Regions from separate parts of the Homo sapiens genome. Here region 2 is linked to region 1. Evidence: fine-mapped expression QTL. Tissue or cell type: lung. Region 1 holds a variant in brackets; the other region holds the start of a gene. All regions are shown on one strand. Distances are from middle to middle.

Evidence for each region. PIP is the estimated chance that this variant, and not a neighbour inherited with it, causes the effect. A credible set is the group of variants that fine-mapping cannot tell apart.
Region 2: it holds the start of PFKFB1, and the variant in region 1 is the best candidate, but not a certain one, in a credible set for the expression of PFKFB1 in lung (TOPMed, PIP 0.83).

What each region holds. Positions count from the first base shown.
Region 1 is chrX:55,014,634-55,017,395 of GRCh38, reverse strand. It overlaps ALAS2 (5'-aminolevulinate synthase 2), which reads left to right. Exons shown (of 11, transcript NM_000032.5): 8 at 1,654-1,818; 9 at 2,381-2,649. Among named protein-coding and RNA genes, the nearest start is that of ALAS2, 15 kb to the left of the region's middle. RefSeq lists enhancers at 1,978-2,216, 1,978-2,380, 1,920-2,380. The variant C/T (reference allele first, on the strand shown) is at 1,320.
Region 2 is chrX:54,992,554-54,995,315 of GRCh38, reverse strand. It overlaps PFKFB1 (6-phosphofructo-2-kinase/fructose-2,6-biphosphatase 1), which reads left to right and starts at 1,128. Exons shown (of 14, transcript NM_002625.4): 1 at 1,128-1,405. The coding sequence starts at 1,309.

The sequences.
Region 1 (2,762 bases):
AGCTAATATTTATAGTGTTTATTATGTGCCAAGCAAAATTATTAGTATTTTACATGTATTAATTCATTTAATTTTCTGAACAATTCTATGTGATAGGTGTTATTATTATTTTGATTTTTTACATGAGGAAACTGAGACATAAGAGTAATTTGTCCAAGGTCACACAGCTAGTAAATGCCAAAGAATGGAGGCAGCTATTACATTCATCTTATAGGTAAAGAAACTAAAGTTCAGAGTTGGCATCCAATTCATCTTGAGTGGCTCAGCAAGTTGGTGCTAAAGTGAGTATCTGCACCCTAACACATATAACTCCAATTCCTCGAGTAACACTTCTCTTGTTAGAAATGATATGTAAATCAATAATCCCAGTGTTTGGTTTTTATGAAGGAAATTTCAAAAACCATTGCCTAGGATTTTTTTCAAGGTCCAGTATGAAGCATTGGGGTCAAAACAGGTTTTCAAGTCAGAGAGACCTGGGTTCAAATCCCACCTTTGACAGTTACTGGCTATGACCATGGGTAACTCTTTAACTGTCTAAGCCTCAATTTTCCCAAAGGTAAAATATCTGGTTGTAAGAATTAGAGATGATAGAAACCATTCTAGTTATTATGCTTTAGTAGAATTAAATGATCTTCACACTCCTACCTCCTTTCTTTGCTCAATTGAAACAATGTCCAAAGCTTTCTATTGCTGGCCCTGTTGTGTAGAAATCATGTGTTTTAGGCATCCTCTTATGGATTTATTTAAGGGAAGAGGTCCTCAACTCATTTCAGTTTGTCCCTTTTCCAACTGAAACAAAAGAGTCCATAGTATTCCCTGATTTAGGTATCTTAAGTGGCATGTAATGACTATACACACAGGCTCTAAAACCAGACTATCCATGTTCAAATCCTAGCATGACCATTTACTAGCTTGGGCAAGCTTCTTAATTGCTCTGTGTCTCAGTTCTCAGTTGCTTATTTGAAAAATGTAAGTGATAATAATTAAATAGGTATGCAAATTAAATGAGTTAATATATGTAAGAAACTTACTATTATGCCCACTCCCACATTTCTAACACTAGCAATAAAGTAAAACTATCCTATCCCTTTTGTATATTTCTACCACTGAGACTATTCAAATTCATTATTTCTCTAGTGGAAACTATGTTGGTACCATTCTACCTCGTTACATTTGCAAATAAATAGTTATTTACCTATTTTTGGGGTGCAAACTCTGCCCAAACTGTTGATCCTTAGGCTGAATCTCTCCCATTGAAATGATGCTAGGCTGAACACAGCAGAAACAGGAAAATAGACATTGTCAGAATGAAGTAAAAA[C/T]AGAAAGACAAAGAGTCAAGCCTTGATCCCAGGCTGGGGAACACACACACATGCGCACACACACGTACACACACACACACACACACACACACACACACACACACACACACACACACAGAGAGACAGAGAGAGAGAGAGAGAAGGCAGGGATGAGATACAGGCAATCGATCCATACACAGAGGTTTGTAATAGTTCTAAATGAAGGCGCACATCCTCCTTCCTCTCTACAACACCCTTTTCCAACCCAAAGTAGGCATGTATGGGAAATTCCACATTGGAGATGGAGCTGGGGAAGGGTTATGATGTCCTACCTCTATCCCTTGGCTTTGCTCAGGTGCCATCTGTCCCCTCGAGGAGTTGTGTGATGTGTCCCACCAGTATGGGGCCCTGACCTTCGTGGATGAGGTCCATGCTGTAGGACTGTATGGGTCCCGGGGCGCTGGGATTGGGGAGCGTGATGGAATTATGCATAAGATTGACATCATCTCTGGAACTCTTGGTAAGTGAATGCTTTGGGCCTTCTTATATACCCTCCAGAGAGGAGGCCCTTACAAAATTCTTTTCTGCCTCCTCCCCAAAGCTATAGGGGTTGTTTGGACAGAATTCACAGCCCCAGGCTGCTGCCATCCTGGACTCCCTCTCTCCACTCGCATCCCACTGCAGAGTTGATGAGAAAGTCTGGTAGAGTTTTTTGAAAAGACCTTGAACTAGGCCAAATAGTTAGATTCAACTTGAGTATGTGAAGAGCTGTGTTTCTAAACCCCTCCCCCACCCTAGCCCCAAGCTTCATCTTAGCTCCACTCCTGACCCTATCCAGCTAAAGGTCCCCACCCAGCTCCTGCCTATCTAGTCATTGCATATGGCAAGACTTGAAAGTCCTATCTCAAAGCAGCAGAATTATCAGCTACGACTGCCTTGTCATGGACAGATGAGCAGAGGCCTGGGAAGACAGCCTGGAGCCCCAACTTCTGGTGCACCCCCTTGTGTTATCTGGCACATGATCCTGTTGCTCTGGGACTGATTATGGGATCTGTGTATATCTTATTCCTTTCTGTCTCCAGGCAAGGCCTTTGGCTGTGTGGGCGGCTACATTGCCAGCACCCGTGACTTGGTGGACATGGTGCGCTCCTATGCTGCAGGCTTCATCTTTACCACTTCTCTGCCCCCCATGGTGCTCTCTGGAGCTCTAGAATCTGTGCGGCTGCTCAAGGGAGAGGAGGGCCAAGCCCTGAGGCGAGCCCACCAGCGCAATGTCAAGCACATGCGCCAGCTACTCATGGACAGGGGCCTTCCTGTCATCCCCTGCCCCAGCCACATCATCCCCATCCGGGTGAGAGCCCCACCATGCCCATTGCCCTCTCCACCTATTTATTCTGGGAGCCTCACGCTCCCAACAAACCTACATCTGTTGCTGTCTTCAATTATTTGCTTTCCTGCTAACCA
Region 2 (2,762 bases), 22 kb after region 1:
TTGCCCTTGTGTAGCCCAGCTCAGTGGAAGAAAGTTGAGCTTCTTCATAGCCAATCGTTGGAGGTTCATTGGGGGTGGGAAGGTTGCAAAAGAGTGAAGTAAGAGGACACTTGTGCATCTTCGAGGCAAGCTGTGCAGTTCTATGAGTTATACACATAAAAGCCTCAAAACAACGGGTCAGGGGAGCGGGAGAGGGCAGGTGAGAGTGAGTCATCTGGGCTGGATGACTCTGGCCTATGGACTTGTCCTACTTTGAGGCCATTGCTCTCTGTTCCCTGCTGCAGCCTCCACCCTCCTAAATCTCCATCCTAATAGCTTGGCATGAGGAACTTTAGTGAAATTTTCTATCAGTTCATGATGCCAGTGTCATTCTCCTTAGGGCATCTGATGGTGGCTAACAGCCATGTGGGCAGAGCTTACCATTCCCCCACCTCCAGCCCCAGGCAATGGCTGCACTCTTCCAAAGGTGTCAGTTTACTCCTATTTATTTAGCCCTTGGCTGGAGAGAGTAGAAAGATGATCGGATAGTGCCCATCTCTTCAAGAGTGCTCCAGGCAGCACATTTCAGGTGGGAGAGGCCCTGTGGCAAGGAAGGCAGCAGAATCCAGAGAAGACAAGGGATGCAATGCCATTTTGGGTCGGGGAAGCAGAGAAGTAGTGGACCTTCCATGTCCAGTTTGGGCCTCTAATTGCCAGCTCAAAACACTGCATTCCCCAGTAGGGACTTTGTGTTTGTGTTTTTGTCCTTGGGAACCTTGCATTTCTGATGTGAATCTTGGTTTCTGGGTTGGAGCTTGACATTCTACTTGGGCCCATTTTTTTATTTCAAAGCTGGGAAAGCCGCTGAGACCTACCTCCATCACCTTTGCCTCTATACCCCACACAGGCTGTAAGCACATGATCTTTGGTCTTTTATTTGCATACTCTATTAGTCTTGTCTTCATTGGAGGGAAGTGACTGGTCAGACCTGGGCTGTGTTGCTGGCTGCCTTCCTTGTTGGGCTCCAACTTACCTCCTATGTACACAGCCCTTGGAGTTCAGAGGCCTCTCCTGACCTCTGCCCAACCTCTCGCCCTCTGCACCCAATACCCCACTAGTACATACAGGAGCAGAGGCAGGCTAGGACCAGAGGAAAGAAGAGAGGGGACTGAAGACAGACTTTGAGAGGGCTCAGAAACCCAGTACACCCCCTGTCCCAGCCCTGTCCACCTGCTGCTGTGGCCACAGCGAGAGAAAAGACAGCTAGTAAGATAGGAAGTGAGGCCAGGTACCTTGTGGGCAGTGATGTCATTCGGTGCGACTCCTAAGATGTCTCCAGAGATGGGAGAGCTCACCCAAACCAGGTTGCAGAAGATCTGGATTCCACACAGCAGCGGCAGCAGCAGGCTGCAACGGAGAAGGGGCTGTAAGTGGGGTTTGCTTCCGTGGGTTTAAAGGTGGTGGTGGTAGAGTGGGTGTAGAAGAGCAAAGGATGCACCTCCCCTTGCCATCCACTCCTACCTCAACCTAAAAGTTGGAATAGATGAACAACTGGATGAAATAGAGGCTAGTGTCAAAAACGTGAGGAAAAGAATGAGAGAGAAGACAGGCGGAAAGAGAGATGAAGACAAAGGAGGATTAGGTTAAGACCATCTTAATCAGAGGGATCTTTAGGAACTTTTCCTTTCTTATGCAGAGCTTGTTTGGAATGCTTCTTGTTTGGAATTTAAGATTTCTAGTTTAGGACTGTTCAGTGATAGCCTAGTATGTTTCATTTTGGTGACTTCTGTGAAGTGTCTGGGAGTTGGTCTTGCCTGACTGATAGTGCCTGGGTGAAATAAGGTGATGGCTCCTGGCATCATCTTTCAGGGGACAGGTGCTGGGTACACAACAGTGCCATGTCACTGGTCAGTATTGCTCCTCTCCTTTCTCAGGCCTTTTCTGAGTCTATACCTGCCTAGGTTGGGAAACACTTAATGTCCTGTCTCCAGTGTTGCCTTCCTGGCACATATGGACTTCCTTGCTGCTCTGGAAATTTGAGAGAGGCAGTCTCTCAGGGCCAGCCCACTGGTGTGGTGCTCACTTTGGAAATTTAAGAAAGATCAAGGGCAAAACAAAACCTGTACATATTTAAAACAAAATCTGGAGTGTACCATTTCCCATAGATAACAGGCGACAGTGGTGGACCAAGGTGCATCCAGCCCAGGGATTGTGGCCTGAGTGGCCATAAGGTGGGTTAAGATAAGGCAGCTGTGGACTGTGGGACTCAGACACCCCAAAGGCCAGCTAACCAAGTTTCCAGTCTGCTAATGCTAGAGGAGGCCCAGGCTTAGGGATATTGGGGGTAGCAGTAGTTGCTTAGAGGATCTAGGAGCATATAGGATGTTAAATATAGTTATAATATACAGGAGGTAGGGTGTGGGTGGAGGAAGAGAGAGAAAAAAGACTAGGCTCCTATTCTCTCTCTTTCTTATCTCCACCAGCTCTCTCACTCACTCATCTGGAGATCTAGGAGCCTGGAGACTGAGAGGTACCCTCGCCCAGCCAGCCACTCTTGGCCTTTTCCAAGGGGCTGTTTAGTTGACAAACAAGCAAGCCATTCTCTGCATACACGGGTCCTCCAGAGCTAGAATGCTTATAGTCCTGGGAACTGTGTCTTTCAAGTTGGAGAGATAATATACATAAATCACCTAATATAGTCTCTATCAAATAGAAGGTGAAAAATAAATATGTGCTTACTTTTGTTTGGAGTGTCACTTTCCTCAGCTATAAAACAGGATTAA